Regions from separate parts of the Homo sapiens genome. Here region 2 is linked to region 1. A link means that fine-mapping ties the variant in region 1 to the expression of a gene that starts in the linked region. Tissue or cell type: hippocampus. Region 1 holds a variant in brackets; the other region holds the start of a gene. All regions are shown on one strand. Distances are between the middles of the regions.

What was found. PIP is the estimated chance that this variant, and not a neighbour inherited with it, causes the effect.
Region 2: DISP2 starts here. The variant in region 1 is fine-mapped to the expression of DISP2 in hippocampus (GTEx, PIP 0.97).

Annotation. Positions count from the first base shown.
Region 1 is chr15:40,284,230-40,292,305 of GRCh38, forward strand. It overlaps PLCB2 (phospholipase C beta 2), which reads right to left. Exons shown (of 32, transcript NM_004573.3): 23 at 7,835-7,929; 24 at 7,620-7,695; 25 at 7,377-7,421; 26 at 7,036-7,258; 27 at 6,789-6,954; 28 at 6,532-6,608; 29 at 6,348-6,443; 30 at 5,796-5,853; 31 at 5,043-5,129; 32 at 3,680-4,689. The coding sequence ends at 4,486. Among named protein-coding and RNA genes, the nearest start is that of ANKRD63, 5.2 kb to the left of the region's middle. RefSeq lists enhancers at 7,078-7,623, 7,624-8,076. The variant C/G (reference allele first, on the strand shown) is at 4,046.
Region 2 is chr15:40,353,581-40,361,656 of GRCh38, forward strand. DISP2 (dispatched RND transporter family member 2) reads left to right here and starts at 4,639. Exons shown (of 8, transcript NM_033510.3): 1 at 4,639-4,860. The coding sequence starts at 4,742. It overlaps PHGR1 (proline, histidine and glycine rich 1), which reads left to right. Exons shown (of 4, transcript NM_001145643.2): 3 at 765-772; 4 at 2,493-2,854. The coding sequence ends at 2,723. It overlaps LOC124903472 (a long non-coding RNA gene), which reads right to left. Exons shown (of 4, transcript XR_007064597.1): 4 at 6,326-8,076. RefSeq lists an enhancer at 824-1,349 and a silencer at 4,560-4,819.

The DNA.
Region 1 (8,076 bases):
TATTTGTAAAGTAAGGAGTAAAGCAGTTATCAGCTGCAGAATTTACTGAGACTTTTCATGAGCCGCACATTTTGTTGCCGGCAGCGGGTAAGAGAGAGACAGAATCTCGGTTCTGGGTGCGAGACGTTCCACCTCTTAAGAAGACAACACTGGGACTTAAAAAATGGACGTTGTCACCTGAGGGCTGAATTCTTCTGCTAAATACGTACCAACACAGTCCTTGGATGAAAAGATGGAGTTGTGGGCAGGAGAGGGCTCTCGGGCCTTTTAAAGATAGGCCTTCAAGGATGTGCGGGATCTGGCTGCAAAAGAAAGAAGGAAGGAATCCCAGGCCGGGTGCAGTGGCTCACGCCTGTAATCCCAGCACTTTGGGAGGCCGAGGCGGGCGGATCACGAGATCAAGGGATCGAGACCATCCTGGCCAACATGGTGAAACCCCGTCTCTACTAAAAATACAAAAATTAGCTGGGCGCGGTGGCACGCGCCTGTAGTCCCTGCTACTTGGGAGGCTGACGCAGGAGAATTGCTTGAACCTGGGAGGCAGAGGTTGCAGTGAGCCGAGATCACGCCACTGCACTCCAGCCTGGAGACAGAGTGAGACTCCGTCAAAAAAAAAAAAAAAAAAAAAAAAAAAAGGAAGTAATTCCAGACGGGTTCTGGAGGCAAAGGCTTGGAAGCAGGATAAACCTTCAGGGGACACTATTGAGGGCTGCTTTAAGGGGTCCCTTCCTATCAGAGACAGGAAATAAGGGAAGAATGATGGTGTTCTCAGTCTGAGCAGATGCTTTGGAGTAGGAGATGCCTGGGGAAAGGTACTGGGCATAGATAGGCGTGGCAAAGTGGGCTCATGGCCCTGCACCCTGAACCCCTTGCCTCTCTCCAGCTCCCAGGCTCCGGGGATGTCCACCTTGAATTTGGCACCCAGGCCATGGAGCAGAGGCTCCCACTCCCCTCTGTCACGTGAGGAGCGTGTGATGTGTACCTGCATCCACTACGAAGCCCCCCTTTTCTCTTTTTGCATTTGTTAAGCCTTTGGTCAGGGATCTGCCAATTTTCTTTCCTGGTGTCATGAAAAGGCCACAGATCTGACATCAGCGTTAAGTCCCAGCTTGAAGGCATTTACTAGCAGTGTGGCTCCAAGCCTGCATATTCTCAGCTGCAAAATGAGACTGATAAATACCAGCCCTGCCTGCTTTACACAAGAACAAGTTAGAAAGTGTCAGGGAAAGAGCTGCATAGTTATTTCATTTTTTTTATTTTGTTTTGTTTTGTTTTCTAGAGCTGCATAGTTATTTAGAGTGCAGCCCTCAAAGCTGCTCCCGCCCCAGAGCTAGGGCCCCCTTCTGGGGTGGCCCCCAGGAATGGATAGAGACTCTCCACCCCCAGTAACTGGGCAGGAATGCTCTCCTTTACTCAGCAGAAGAAAGGCTTTTCTTCCCTTTATGACTCAACTTCTCTTTTCAGCACTGTGAGGGAAATTGCTTTCTTCCCTTCTATTTCCAAGGTCAGAGGAGGGTGTACCCCTGGAACCTGTGTGTGGCCCACCAGCCTGACAAGCCATGACTCACACCCCCCCAGGTGGAGGAGAGAAGCAGCAGAAACCCAGAATGGGCACTTTCTTGGTCCTGAAGAGCCCCTCCTCCCTGAGACAACTGAGCTTCATTTCTGTTCCTGTTCCTCCGTGGTGGATTGAGACAGTTCCAGGGAAGAAGAGTTGGGGCAGAAAGTGCTGTGCTGGGTACCCTTTGGAAGGAGCAGTTGGTTCCCATGGCAGGAAGGGGGTGGTGGTGCCAGGTCTCGAGCCCTGGAGCCTTTGCTCTGACTTCTCTATGGGCTCAGTATGTTCTGAACAGAAAAGAAACAGCAAAGCTGAAAAAAAGCTGAGACTTTGCTGCAGAGCACAGAGGCACCAACAGCCGGAATTAGAAGCTGTCGCTTAGGGAGCTGAAGGCTGACAGGAGATGGAGCCCAGGCAGGCAGGGGGCAGGCAGGCACGTCATACTCACCTCCCCTCCTCTCCCCTCCTGTCCCACCTGCTGGGCCTGTCCTCCCAGCAGGCCCCAGGCTGGCAGAAGGGCTCCCTCCCCAAGATGCCTCAGTGTGGTCTGCCACTCTGTCTGCAACTGCCTCCCTCTCAGGCCCCTTCTTTCCTCAAGTGTCACCAGCCCCCTCACGCTGTCACGTTGCACCAGCTTGGCAGGGTTGGGCCTGGTGGCATGTGTCTGGGAGATCCAGAGGGCTGCTCAGGGGATGCAGGGGGCGGGGTGAGTCAGCAGGGGACTCGAGTCTGAGTCAGCAATGGAATTGGGAAAGGGGTAGGGACCCTTCTCTTTGTGCAAAAGGTGAAACTGAGGCATGATGCGTGAAGGGAGCCTTGCCCCAGTCCCATAGATACACAGCAGTGATGGAACCCAGGTGTCCTTCACCTGCCCCAGTACCCCAAGGGAAGGCGTCAACTCTTCTTCTATACATCCCCTGCAGCCAGAGACTAATTCATCTCCAGGACCCAGAGATGGCATTTGCCTAAGGGACACCTTGCCTTTTTGGGAGGAAAGCAGGGAGGCAGGTATCTAGGCCTGGCCACATGGGAAGGCCCCAGTCGGCTATGCAGAGGCCTCTCCGGGGGCAGGATTGCATCGCCTTCCCCATTCCTGGGCTACCCAGCTCCAGACTGGGAGCCCAGAGACTCTGCGTGGCCTGGCCCAGAGGTGAGGGGAAGGCAGCTTTTCCTTCTCCTGTACAGTCATCAGCAAAATCTGGGGGCTGCCCAGTGGGCTCCATTGGGCTCTGGCTCTGGCTTACGTGCACATGCCTGGGTCAGTGAGTTCCTCTAGGCCCGAATCCTCACCTTTACAGCCCAGTGCCTGGCAGAAGGGTTGAACATAGGGCACCACCCTGGGGTATAGGTGGTCTGCCCCAGCGTATCCAGTCTGTAATGATGTAGGGAGCAGGCTGATCAATGCTAGGCCTTAGCCCAGTAAATGATCAGCCCCCTCACCTCACCCTACAGCCAGGGCCTGGTAGAATCCCAGAGGTCAGACTCCCAGAGGGATGGGATGGCAGGGTGGGGGCAGGAGGACCTGTTTACTTTCCAAAGGAACAGGTGCTCACAGCTAACGGCATGTGCTGTAACTCTAATAAGAAAACAACCTCTTCCCAGAATCAATCCCCCTCTGCCTCCTAAGCCAGTGCCTGTCCCTATTTGGGATTTGGGATCATGTCATCGGTGCAGTGAGTGGCTGCCCACAAGCCCCTCCACAGCAAGTTTTGAGGTCAACCATAGCTGCCATAGGGTCCTGAGCATCCAACCACTCTGTCTTCCTAAAGGGGCCTAGATTGCCTAAAAGTTTGGAACTCCCCCTAAAATAGGGGACATCTTTGCACTCAGCTCTTCTGCTCCAACCCCGAGAGTGGAGACAATGAAGGGCCACATCTGTGTGGGGGCGAAGAGGGGGTGACATAATTTTCCAGTGATTGTGGCATCAGGGCCAGCAGAAGGGGAAATGAATCCTCTTCAAGTCCAGAGGCAGGGCCATTTCACTGGACTCTGGAAAGGACCTCACCCTGGGTTCAGCTCCCAAGAGATTTTTTTTTCCCCAGCCCGTTTCATTTCAGGGGCACTCCACTACCCTGCCCCCATTTTCTACCTGTAGAATAGAGACCAGGCTTAAGCAGGAAACACTGGGACGAGGTTCTTTAATAGGAGTAGGAAAGAGAAAAATAAATAAACCTCATAAATTCAGGAGAGCAAATGATGCTGACCTTGTCAGGCAGGCAGCCTGAGAGGGGTACATGGTAGGAACTGCCTGCCCCCAGGCCTAGGAAGAGGGGTGAGCCAGGGTCAGGGTGGAACAGCACCCAAGAGCCCACTGCCCCTTGTGACTCAGCCAAGCAGGGCCAAGGCAGCTTTTCCATTTCAGCCTCCCGTTCCGGACAGGCAGAGGGGAGGGGAGGGCCCTCAGCCAGGGAGTGGCCGTCCCCAGGGAGCTGTGAGGTAGTGCCAGGATCTGCCTCAAGGAGTGGACAAGGCCAACTCAGGGCAGGC[C/G]TGATGGGGCCTGGAAGCCTGGGGCAGGAGGGTTCGGGGCTAGAGTGGAGGTGAGTGGGTCCAACCCTCCAGGTGAGGAAACTGAGCCCAGAGCTGGTTGCTCAATAGGAAAGGCAGAGTGGGGCCAGGATCCCACTTTCTGCCTTCCAGTCCATAGTCTTTTGCCCTCAACAAATATATGACACTTATCTAGAGATGGAGGGGGAGGTAGGAAGTCAGCTTGAGAAGACTTCTAGGCCCCAGAGAGGCCCTGCCGTGAGGGTGCCTGGGTCCTGTCTCAGACTCTGGCCTGGCCGTTGAGGAGGGGGCTGCAGCGTCCAAGGCAGCCACAGGTTCCCACAGCCTCAGAAGGCTGGGGCTCCTTTTTCCTGGGGGAATAGAACCACATCCCAGAGAAGGGGCTGAACCTCCTTGCTAAATGTCCCAGTGGGATGGGGGCATCAGAGGCGGCTCTCCTGGGCATCTGCCTTTGCTATGAGTGGGTCCTGCTCACACAGCTCTGGGGGGCACTCGCAGGCCCTCTCAGGCTTGTCCTTGGCCTCGGAGGGAAAGCAGGTCCTGAGGCAGGCCCTCACCGACTCCTTCACCTCTGCCTCCAGACCCTTCATCCTGGCCTCGTACTCTGCCAGCGCCTCCTTCTGGAACTGTGGAGACAGCAAGGACCCCTGCCTGGCTCAGGAGGGGCCTGCTGGCCACCCTCGCTCCCTGGACAGTGGGAACAGGAGATGCCCAATATCCATGTTCGGAGCTCCCAGGAGACTGGGGTGAGAGGCAGGGTGGGGGAGTGGTAGAGCCCATCAGGAGCCTCTCAGGAAAGGGGATCCTAACCAGGCGGAGATCTGCAGAGCTGCCTCATTTGAAAGGGCCTCGGGACCCCACAGTGAAGGATGATGGCCCCCTTCCCCTACCCTCTCACTGGCAGCTCCCTGGGGCAAGGCCCCTTTACAACCCGGAACCCATTCAGTTCTGCTGGGGGTCCCAGTAGTGAACCTGTTACCTGCTTTTCCATCTCCCGTATCTGTTCCAGGCAAGCCGCCTGCTTCTCCTCCAGCTTCTCCTGGTGCCTCTCCAAGTTCTCCGTCATCTGGGTGGGAGTGGATGGCAGAGAATCAGGACAACACAGACAGGCAAGCTGGGTCAGAATCCAGCTGTAATCCCAGCTAACTAGTTGTAAGACTTTGGGCAAATTCCTTAACATTAGGTAGTTTTTAAAATTTGTAAGATAAGGATAGCAGCACCTGTCTCACTGGACTGTAAAAGATTATACAAGACAGCTCATGTGAGGCACCTGGCAGAGTGCCTGGCACAGGTCAGGACCCAGTAGGTGGCAGCTGTGTTCTGTGGTTAATGATCCCTAGGGGAGCTTCAGGTCCATTATTCCTTGGCACCTCAGGAAGCTTCCTCACTCCCTCTTCATCCCCTGACCCTCGCCAGTCCCAGCCTCCCCTGGCCCTGATATGGGCCAGTTAGCCCATATCATTTCCACACATGAGAACTGGCCAGAGACAGATCCCTTCAGGCTGGTACCCCAACCTCCATACACAGGCCAGAACCCCAGGATGTCCCCTGCCACCCCAGCTGCATGGACAGCGCTAGGCAGTGCATCTCCTAAGGGCAAAGTCAGGGCCTGGGGCCACCCCTTCCTACTTGTGAAGAGAGAGAGAGAGAGAGAGAGAGAGAGAGAGAGAGAGAGAGTGTGTGTGTGTGTGTGTGTGTGTGTGTGTTTAGGAAGGACACAGCCCTTACACACCTGCTTGATCACCTGCACTACTTCCTGGATGTGGGAGTTGTTAATCTCTCTCTTCAACCTGTTGGTGTAATTGGAGTTTTAGAAAAGGGAGAAAACCCCTAGGGAGAGTAGGGTAACATGAAGTCTACGCAGGATGTAGGCAAATGAGAAATCCAACATAGGGCAGGAACCAGCTGGGGGCAGGTGTGGGGACCCAAGGAGTATGTAGGGGCCACTGGGAGTCCTGGGGCCCTCTGAGGGAACCATTTCCCCATCAAAACACACTGTCCTTCCGTGGGAAACAGTGCCACCACAGTGGACAGGCTACAATCCCAAGGCCTCAGCTCCCTCCCTGCAGGCTTGGCTGCCTCCAGAGCTCTGCCCATGTAGTGTTGGCCTCCGTGTTTTGTCTGAGGAGGACACTCTGATCAAAGGTGACAGGGGGGATCCGCTTTTTGGAGAGCCAGGGGACAGATGCATCTTTGGGAAGTGAGTCAGGATCCATTTGTAGAGAGGCCCCTTTCCACCTGAAGTGGGGTCTGCCCAGCCCTGGGCCTCCCCTCCAGGGCTCACCTCTCCTGGGCCATCTTGTCTGTGGTGACTTTGGTCATGCCCTGGATCCGCTCCAGTCTCTTTGTCTCCAGCTTTTTCTTCATCTCTTTGGTGTCGCTGCAGAGAGACAGGCATGAAGGAGCTGTTTTGTGCGGCTGAGCCCTTGCTGGGAGGCGAAGCAGGTGTGGGAGGGAGGCAGTCGTACTTCTCCGACGTCTCCTTCAGGGCCTTCAGCTCTGCCGCCTGTTTCTCTCTGGCCAGCTCCATCATTTTGGAGATTTGCTGCAGGGAGAGGAAGTAAGCTTGGCGAGAAGCCCTTTGTTGTTCAGAGGGAGTACGGGGGGCGGGGGTCGGTGGAGGGGAGTCGGTGAGGGGGTTGGGTCGGTGAGAGGGGCGAATGGGGTCCATGGGGGGTGGGGTCGGTGGGGCTGGTGGGGTTGTCGCCCTGCCCCTCCCGGCCACCTCGGCCACGTGCTGCTCCTTGCGCTTCAGAACGCACTCGTACTGCTCCTCGCCCTGCCGCAGCAGCTCCAGCTCCAGCCTGTCTTTCAGCTCCCGCACGCGCCCGTCCACGCCCTCAGGGCCCTCGCCCGGCGCGGCTCCGGCGCTCTCCTCGCGGGGCAGGCTCCTGGGGAGGCCACGTGGGGACAGGCCCTGAGATCCTGCGCCACCCGCGCTGCAGAGGGCAGGGCACCGCCACGAGCCTTACCTCTTCTTGCGAGAGCCCTTGCCGGGACCGAGCTTGCAGGCCCCGACGCCCCCCACGCCCGGTGGCCCGAGCTCCGCCAGCTGCGCCGCGCCCCGCTGCAGCAGCTCCTCCCAGCGCCGCGCTCCGCGCCGCTCCAACTCTCGCAGCTCCTTCTCGTGCCGCCGCTGCAGCTTCACCACGCCCTTTAGCTCCCGGAGCTCCTCCAGGCTGGCGGTCCGCGGCTCTGCGGAGGCCCGGGTGAGGCGCAACACCGGCCAGGCCGTCCTGCCCGTCCAACCCCCAAGGAGCCCCGGACCCGCCCCAGGCTCATCCCCGAGATCACCGGGCTCAGCAGGCCTTACCCGCAGCTTCTTTCATAGCCTCTTCCCTGGCCCCGGCCCTGGCTGCTGCAAGAGCCACGGGCTGGGCTGTCAGGTGCTCTGGGGGGCCCCTTGGCTCCGTTCGCCTCCTCCACACCGCCCCCTGGGAGTCGCAGTATGTGCCCCCTGCCCCGCACTTTCCCTAGGTGAAATTTTTTAAAGGGAAGTGCCTGTGGGTGCAGAGGTGGAGGTGCCCCCAGTAGGTGTGCGGACCGAAGCTCATACCTGGTGACCCATTGCTCGTTGGGGCCAACGCCCCATTGACCTGGCTGGCAACTGGACTCGCCAGTGGGAAGGGCTTCTGTGTAGGGAGAGCAGGTCAGGAAGGTGGCTTGACAGCCCTCTCTCCCCGAGCCTGGGACTCGGCCCTCTCCCCAGCCTCTCCCATAAATAGGGCTAATCTCTGGTGAGCCCCTGGCAGCAGTGCAGGCAACACAGACCTCAGGCAGACCTCCCATGGCCTCCTTGAGCTTCACAGACTTCGTGTCATGGGCACTGAAGAACTTAATGGGGTTGGCGAGGGCCACAGTGAGATCTGGGTGGGTGCACAGGACATTACAACATAGTGTATATGGAGATGTGGCTGGAAGTCTCCCCTGTCCTCACCCACTCCAGGATGCCCCATCTGGATCCCACCCCAACTCTGGAAGCTGGCTTGATGGGAAGGAAGGGGGAACAGACA
Region 2 (8,076 bases), 69 kb after region 1:
GGGTCGGAATCCAGAATCCAGTTCTTGGGAGCTGTGCCATCGGCTTCCCTCGAAATGAACAAAAGACCGTCCTAGCCTTTAAGAAGTAGCAGGTGATTCCCACACCAATGGGGCACTTCAGAACATGCAGGACCACTCAGGTGGGTGCTGCAGGAGCCCAGTGGACCCACAGCTGGGCAGCCTGGATGGCTCCCATGTGGATTTCCTGCATGAGGGCAACACGCAGCTGCTCCAGGGAGATTTCCAAGTGGGAGGAGGCATGAGCAAAGGCCAAGAGCTGAGAACAGAAGGTCATAAACAGGAGACAACAAACAGCTCTGAGAGGCTGAGCAGAGATTGGGCCGAGATACGTGGGGCGTGACAGGGGCAGAGGACAGATGGGGAGGTTGGCAGGGCTGCTGGCCTGGAGGTAGAAGCAAGAATCAGGTGGATGACAGGGTTGGCCACCATGGAGCACCTCCAGGCTGACAGAGTTGAGACAAGAACCCATACCTCCTAACTGGCGCCACTCCACCCAGGAGGACTCAGCCAGCCCTTGAGCACACAGGGACACACTGCTGAACCTTATATTGACTTCCAATATGTATCTTTGCTGAGAGAATGAATGAAGGAATGATTGTCAGGCAAGTGACCATGTCTGAGAGGCCCTGTTGGGTTAGGGGTGTGGGCACAAAATCCTTAGTGCCAGGGAGAAGACAGGTTTTTTTTTACTGCAGAACCAAATGACCAAAGCTGCTTCTTTTTTTTCCCTTCCTCTCCCACAGGTCCGAAGGTAGGAAAGTTCCCCCAATGGTCTCCCCTTTTTCCTCCCACTGTCATGTCCTCCAGACCCCTAGCCTCCTTCCTAGACCCTCAGGGAGCAGCCACCACTTCCCCCAAATGAAAAGAAGGGAGCAGGCTCAGGCAGCAGCCCCGTGGAGTGGGGGTGGGGTGGGCAGCGCTGCACTCCTCCACCCCCTGCTGGCTGCAGCCTTCTTGGCGTTCTCTCCTCTGTTTTCCCATCTGTCTCTCTCCTTTCCTCACGTCCCCTCCCTGCCCTAGCAGCCCATCCTCTCTCCTGCTGCTTCCCCGCCTGTGCTATGCTTTTCTGCTTTCCTGGCTACCCCCACAGCCTTGCTGGATAGCTGGCTTGCTCCCAAACTCCAACCACACTATGGGGCCCCTAGGACCTACTCCTGCCAGAGAAAGGAGACTGCGTCTCCTCCACCTCTTCTCACCCACTGGCTACCACCAGCAGACTCAGTTCCTAGGCCTGGTCTGTGTGCCAACCCCCAAACAAAAGAGCCATAGGCAGAGAGGCAGGTGGGGTGGGAAGTGGCTGTTTCCAGGCATCACTGAGCCTGGATGGGGCAGGGGCTGCTCTACCATGGTCACAGGAAAGCGCCCAGCCCTGGAGCCTGCCTCTTCCCCACTGGTACCAAGCCCTAATCAAGCCCTAGGAGGCAGAAGGAGACTGGGGAGTTATCCAGCCCAGACAGTGGGAGCATAGCCCCGCCCTGCTCCACAGGGCCCCAGACCCCGAGTCCCCTACCACAGAAGCAAGGTGGTATCTCTTGCCTGCCCCCTGGGCTTGTGGCAAAAAGTTAAAAAAACAAAAAAAAAACAAAAAACTCCCCTGGCCTTGGGACTTCAGGAATGATTCCAGCCAAGATGGAAGGTTAAACCACACTTTTTCCAGACCTCTTCTGACTGAGGCAGAAAAGCTTTGATTTTACTTTCTATTCTTCCTGATTTCTTGGGTCTGGCATCCGCTCAGGAACAGGTATGAGCTCGCACATACTCATGTACACAGAACCATGCACTCCATGCACGTATCTGTGTACATACCAAGCTTGAATATGAACCCACCCATGCACACGTACACAAACATAGCTATTTTATATAAATATGGCACACACCGTCTACACACATACACACTACCTATAAAAAGAATACATACATCCTCACCTTGCCACCTCCTACCCTCCGTGTCTTCTCATCCTCCAACTGTCTTCCTTCTTCCCCTCCTCAGCTCTTTCATCTCCCCTGACCCAGCCTCCTGTCTCCCCCTGCCCCTGGCCTTCAAAGAGCTCTTCTGTAGCCTCCTCTAGCCTCACCCTTGCTCCTAAGTACAATGAGCCTGCAGTTCCTAGCATGGCAAAGCCTCTAATCACTCTGCAAGGGTTCCTGGGTGAGAGAAAGGAGAAGATGAAATAATTCTGCTTCTTAGTTGCAAATAAAATAAATCGAGGTACAGGGAGCGGGAGTCATATCTTGGCTCAAAGAATAGAAACCAATAAATCTAGGTTGCTTGCCTTTTATCTGCTCAGTGTTCTGGCCTCACCAAGGCAAAAGGCACGGGACATGCTACCCATGCCCCCAGCCCTCCACCGCAACTCCTTACTTGCCTAGAAATCCTGAGTCCCCCAGGGAAGTGGAGTGAGGGAGAGCTGATCTCAGGTAAGCTTAGCCCTGACCTCTGACTCTGACATTGTTCATTTGACTTTCCACAGGGGCACTGCCACTGTGGGGGGCATGGCCATCCTCCAGGTCACTGCGGGCCACCCCCTGGCCATGGCCCAGGGCCCTGCGGGCCACCCCCCCACCATGGTCCAGGGCCCTGCGGGCCACCCCCTGGCCATGGCCCAGGGCCCTGCGGGCCACCCCCCCACCATGGTCCAGGGCCCTGCGGGCCTCCCCCTGGCCATGGCCCAGGTCACCCACCCCCTGGTCCACATCACTGAGGAAGTAGAAGAAAACAGGACACAAGATGGCAAGCCTGAGAGAATTGCCCAGCTGACCTGGAATGAGGCCTAAACCACAATCTTCTCTTCCTAATAAACAGCCTCCTAGAGGCCACATTCTATTCTTTAAAGAGCCTGTCTTCCTTCATATCCAACCTGGCTGTCAGAGGACCCAGTTGTCTCCAAGCTCCCTAGTTGTGAAGATGGGGCAACCATCCTGGCATTCTCAGAAGCTTAATGCCATGGTGCTCACTATAAATGGCTGTGTAAGGTCACCTCTCCTTTCCTTTTCACTCCTGTGCCCTCCCATCGAGGAACTTCAAGTGTGGCCTCATTACCTCTATGCCATCCTGTACATCCAGATCTGGTGGGCCTTCCAAGGTTGCAGCTTGCATGCCTCACTCTACAGACCAGAAGCCTCCCTCCAATCCAGATGGTTTCTCACCATTCCCTTAAAATACACTGAACTTTCCAGCCCCCTTACCTTTGTTTGCACAGGTAAGGAAGAATGCCCCCACCCCAGGTCAGGAAGGCCTTCCCTCTCTCCTACCTCCACATTTCAAAGCCCACCCTTTCTTCCAAGCCAGCTGAAGCCCCACCATCTCCAAGAAGCCTTCTCTAAGGCCTATTAGGAAGAAAGAGGTCCTTCCTTTTTGCATACTGTCCCCTTCTCAACCACCTCATGGGCCTCACCATATCTTGCCTATTGGCAGCAATTTATGGGCTGGCCCTTTATCTCTCCAACCAAACTATAAGCTATTCAGGGCAGACCCAACACTTCTACACCTCTAGATTCTTCCACCCCATTTCTTATGACCTGTGTCTTACACGGACTGGCATTGGCACACATTTTAGGGATACCTATAGTCCAAGTGTTCCTGACTCTCTCCTCAGCCCCATGTCTTCAACCAAGGCCTCTCCCTGCACAAGTAACCAGGCCCTGAACAGCCTGCTTGCTGTAAAACCCTTTCTGCCTAGTCAAATCCCACATCCAGGATCCTCTCCACTCCCAGCCCCCCAGGCTTCTCACACTGCCAATATCTATTCTAGTTCTAGACCCCTTAGCCAGGCCTGTCCACAGTCCATCATACCCAAATGTGCTCTACTCACAGCTACTCCCTGGTGGGGGAGGTGGCACTGGAGTCAGTGGCTATTGGGCACCTCCCAGTGCCCTGGAGTCAGTGGCTATTGGGCACCTCCCAGGCTGAGGTGGGGTGGGGGGGCAGCGGTGACTATAAAAAAGGATCTGGGATCACTCAATATACCCTTATAACAAACCTGCACATGTGCCCCTGAATCAAAAATTAACCTTAGCTTACTGTGATTTGTTTGCTTTATAAACCTTTTAAATTTTAAAAAAGAAAGAGAAGGAGCTGGGGATGATCTGAGCGCCTCTCTTCTTCCCCCACCTCCTTCACCAGACTGCGCACTTGAGTAACGGAGTCAGGGCTCCGCATCTAAGGGGTGCACACCCAGGTCCAAGTCGAAGTCCAGAAGGATGGGAAGAAAGACCCAACCTGATGCCTCGCCCCACTGGGGAGGGGAGGAGGGCGCTGAGCGAGCCGGGAACCTCGCAGGCCTGAAGCCGCCCGCCTCGACCCGGGGCGTCCAGCGTGGTGAAGTGCGGGCGTGGAGCTCGCCCTCTATCCGGCTGGAAGGGTCTGCGTTTTGATTTGTGAGGATCTCTGCATGTGTCGCGCTCTCTGGTTCCTTACGGGAAGGCCGAGGCCGCTAGGAAGGGTTGCACGGCCGGACTCCTAACAGCGGCTCTCTGGCCTGGCGGGAGCAGAGGGGCGCTCACATCCGCAGCCCCGGGATCTTAGAGACAGAGCGCTCCGCTCCGGCAGCGGCGCCGCGCCCATTGGCTGGGCTCCTCCTCGCCCCGCCCAGCGACCGGCCCGCTCAGAGCCTACGCATGCGCACGAGCACCCCGCCGCCGCTGCCGCCGCCACCGCCGCCGCCGCCGCCGCCGCCGCGGCTTCAGCACCAGCGCCCGGACAGCGGTGCCGCCCACGGGCATGGACGGTGACAGCAGCAGCAGCAGCGGCGGCAGCGGTCCGGCTCCCGGCCCGGGTCCGGAAGGGGAGCAACGGCCCGAGGGGGAGCCCTTGGCCCCAGACGGCGGCTCCCCGGACAGGTAGGGCGGACAGCTCCGCAGATCCGTATCACAGACCCTCCCAGACCCTCCCCGCCCCAGGTATCCCCAGTAGCCGCCATATGTTGCCCCATTCATTCCCCAGACCCTCCCGGAGCCCCTTCCCGGGGTCGCCAAGCTCCAGGCCCCCCTCGCCACGCCCTCATCCTGCCGGGTCAATTTCCTCGCTCCCTGACACCCCCTAGTGTCAGCCCCCATCGCCCTCCCCGCTTAGGGAACCTGCCCCACCCACGGCTCCTACCCCTCCTCTCAGGCCAGGACTCCCTGGCTCCTCCGGCCCCTCCTTCTAGGCCCTGCCCCTGCGTCTTCTCCGGAAGCCCCAAGCCCGCAGTAACCTCAGTCCGGGTTTCAGCGTGCCAGTGTGCATGAAGGTGTGCGTGAATCGCGGATGGGAGGCTCGCCAAGGCGGGTGTCCTGGGGAAGGCAGACATTCGGCAGGCACGTCAGGGACTGTCTTTGTCACCATCAGTCGCTTGCCTGCCCTGCATGACCCCCAGCTGTGCACGTGTGGGTTCCAGTCCCTGCATGTGGCAGCCACACTGGCTGGAGCCGCTAAGATGGGAAGGATTTGGTGCTCAGGCTGCTGGCCTGTACCACCCCTGGAGGAGCCCCATACTGGTGGGACAGGAGGGACACCTTCCTGCTGAGGGCCCAGATCTCAGCACCTCTCTTCTCCCTTCCTCCACCATATGTGTGAGGGAACAGCCCAGCTAGGTAGCAATATGGCGCAATTTCTGTGCCCTGCCTGGCTCTGCCGCCCCCAGAATCCCTCCTCTGACATGACACTGCCTCTTTCCTGCCTGGACTGAAATAAAAGGCATTCCTTGATAGCAATAGCAGAAGTGGACACATCGTCTCCAGAATACCCCAGTTAAAATGTACATTCTGTACCCCAGAGGGGGAGAAAGCCCCACAAGTAGAGAGAAATGCTTTCTTCCCTTTATTGTTAACACATTAGCCTGGATAGATTTAGCCACTCTTCAGTCTGAAAGTCACAAAGCCTTCAAGAAGGTGAGACACAGGATGGGTGTATTCACCAGTCCAGGGACCTGCCTGGGACTATGGCCTGATCAAAGATGGGGCAGTGACAGGACAGAGCGAGGACCTGGGGCCAGAAGCATCCCTAGAAGGGGCAGGAGAGTCATTTGCTGTCTCAGATATCTTGCCAAGGATCAGCCATGTCCAGTCTCATTTCCCCTGGGCACAGGATCCACTTGCTCTCTTCCAGAAACTCCCTGGGGCCTCTGGCCCCTCTCTGGACTTCTCCAGAGACCATAGACACTAATTGGGCATAGGGACTTGCTTATGTGATTCAAGAAACACAAAAATGCTCCTGCTGACCTGAGTAGCACTCTGGGGATAGATACACAGTGAATAACTCACACACACAACATGCGCATGTGCACACACACTGGCTAGAGAGGAATTTGAAATAGTTCACACTTTGTGTTTTTAAAATTACCTTTTTATTTTCCTAGTGATATGAGCTGCTTCCCCATCTGTCCTGGCCACTCTGTGGGATCACACTGATGTTCACCTGGCTGTGTGTCTGTGGGCTTGGGGGTATAGTTAATGCGATATACATTTGCCCCTTATGGGGCTTCCAGGTTTGGTCTCTGTGTCTAGGAGCCTGTCAGCCAGGCCCTGATTGCTGGGATGCTGGCCTCTTAAATGAGGCCTGCATCCCCACTTTCCATCCCCCTGCCTGCCCTACTCACTTGGCGTACAGGCCTGCAGGCCCGGGCAGGCAACCCTGGAAGTTACTCATCCCAGTGAGGGCCATGGAACTGAGGGAGTGAGAATAAAAAACCCCTGTGTAGCCCTGGGGTGCTTAACTCCTATTTTACTGAGCCTCCTGAGATCAGAGGGCAGCAGGAGGTGACAAGAGAAAGCTTTTATTCTGAGAAGAGTGGAGGTCGGTTTTTCTCATGGGAGTTTTGAAGAAAAGGCCTGGCTCTACAGCAGTCAGAATATGGAAGGTTTCAAATTCTGCCACATTGATAATGGTGGGCACAGTCAGGAAGGGTGAGATTGGGGGCAGCTGATCCTAGGTCCCTGAAGAGGAATAGTAGGAGTTAAAGGGAAGGAGCTGGGGCCAGGGAGACTCCAGCAGAAGCAAACCAGTGGTGGAGGCTAAGATCCCCCTTGAACAAGAGCCAGCTAAGGAAAAGGGTGGACTTGGGAGGTTTTAGAAAACTGGGTAACCAAGAGTGCACCCACTCTTCTCCCGTATCCTCTGGAATGCTGGCTTCCCCTAATGCAAAAGAAACCAACACTCCAAGTGGGGCCCTGGCTCCTAAGACAAGCCCAGTGATCAGTTATCTAAGGCCATGGGCAGCTGGAACAGGCCCCCCACCTCCACCCAGGCTGCCCCACTCTCCTGACCTCTAGAAGGCAAGCCCTGCTCTGAAGAGGGAGACCAAGGCTGATGGGTCATCTTCAGGCCTCTAGGAGCAAGGACAATGCTAAAGCACAGGACAGTGCTCAAGAAAAACCCGCAGAATTTAACATCTTAAAGAGGTCTATGTCCACACTTACACACACAACCTAGGCCATTTATCCACCTTCTCACTGGCCCACAGGGATTGGCCTACAGAGTATTTTATCTGCCAGGACACTGGCTGCTTACGTTATTAACTTTATGGAGTCATCTGAGGTCTTGCTTTAGAACAACTTTGGTCAAATTCCTATTTTCCTAAATGTTGAGTTTGTAAAAAATAAGTATCAGTGATTAAAATCATGAGATCAAATTTTAATGCAGCTTTTGGATAACAAGAAGGAAAGTATTTATATAGGTAGTGAGATTCTCAAGGTGTGAGAAGTTCTAAAATGGAGATATATTATCTGAGGTGCCAAAAGAGGACAAATTGTAAATACAAACACACTTCTAAAAGTATATGCTCCCTGCTGCACTGACCGTGGGAAGGGGCAGGAAAGCAAACGTGTCTTCCACGTGACAGACCCTGTGCCAGGAACCTCACATATGTTACATCAGTTAATTCCCACACCAAACCCAAGAGGTGGGCATTATCTCATATCTTCAACAGACAAGGATGCCAATGCTCCAAGAATTGTGTGTCTTTCCCAAGGCCCCAGAGCCAAAGGGTGTTTGAGTCAGAAGCCCACCTCCACTGCTCCCCCATTTCACCCTCAGCATGAAGGTCATTCTCTCCTGTACTGCCGGGCCAGCCTGCCATC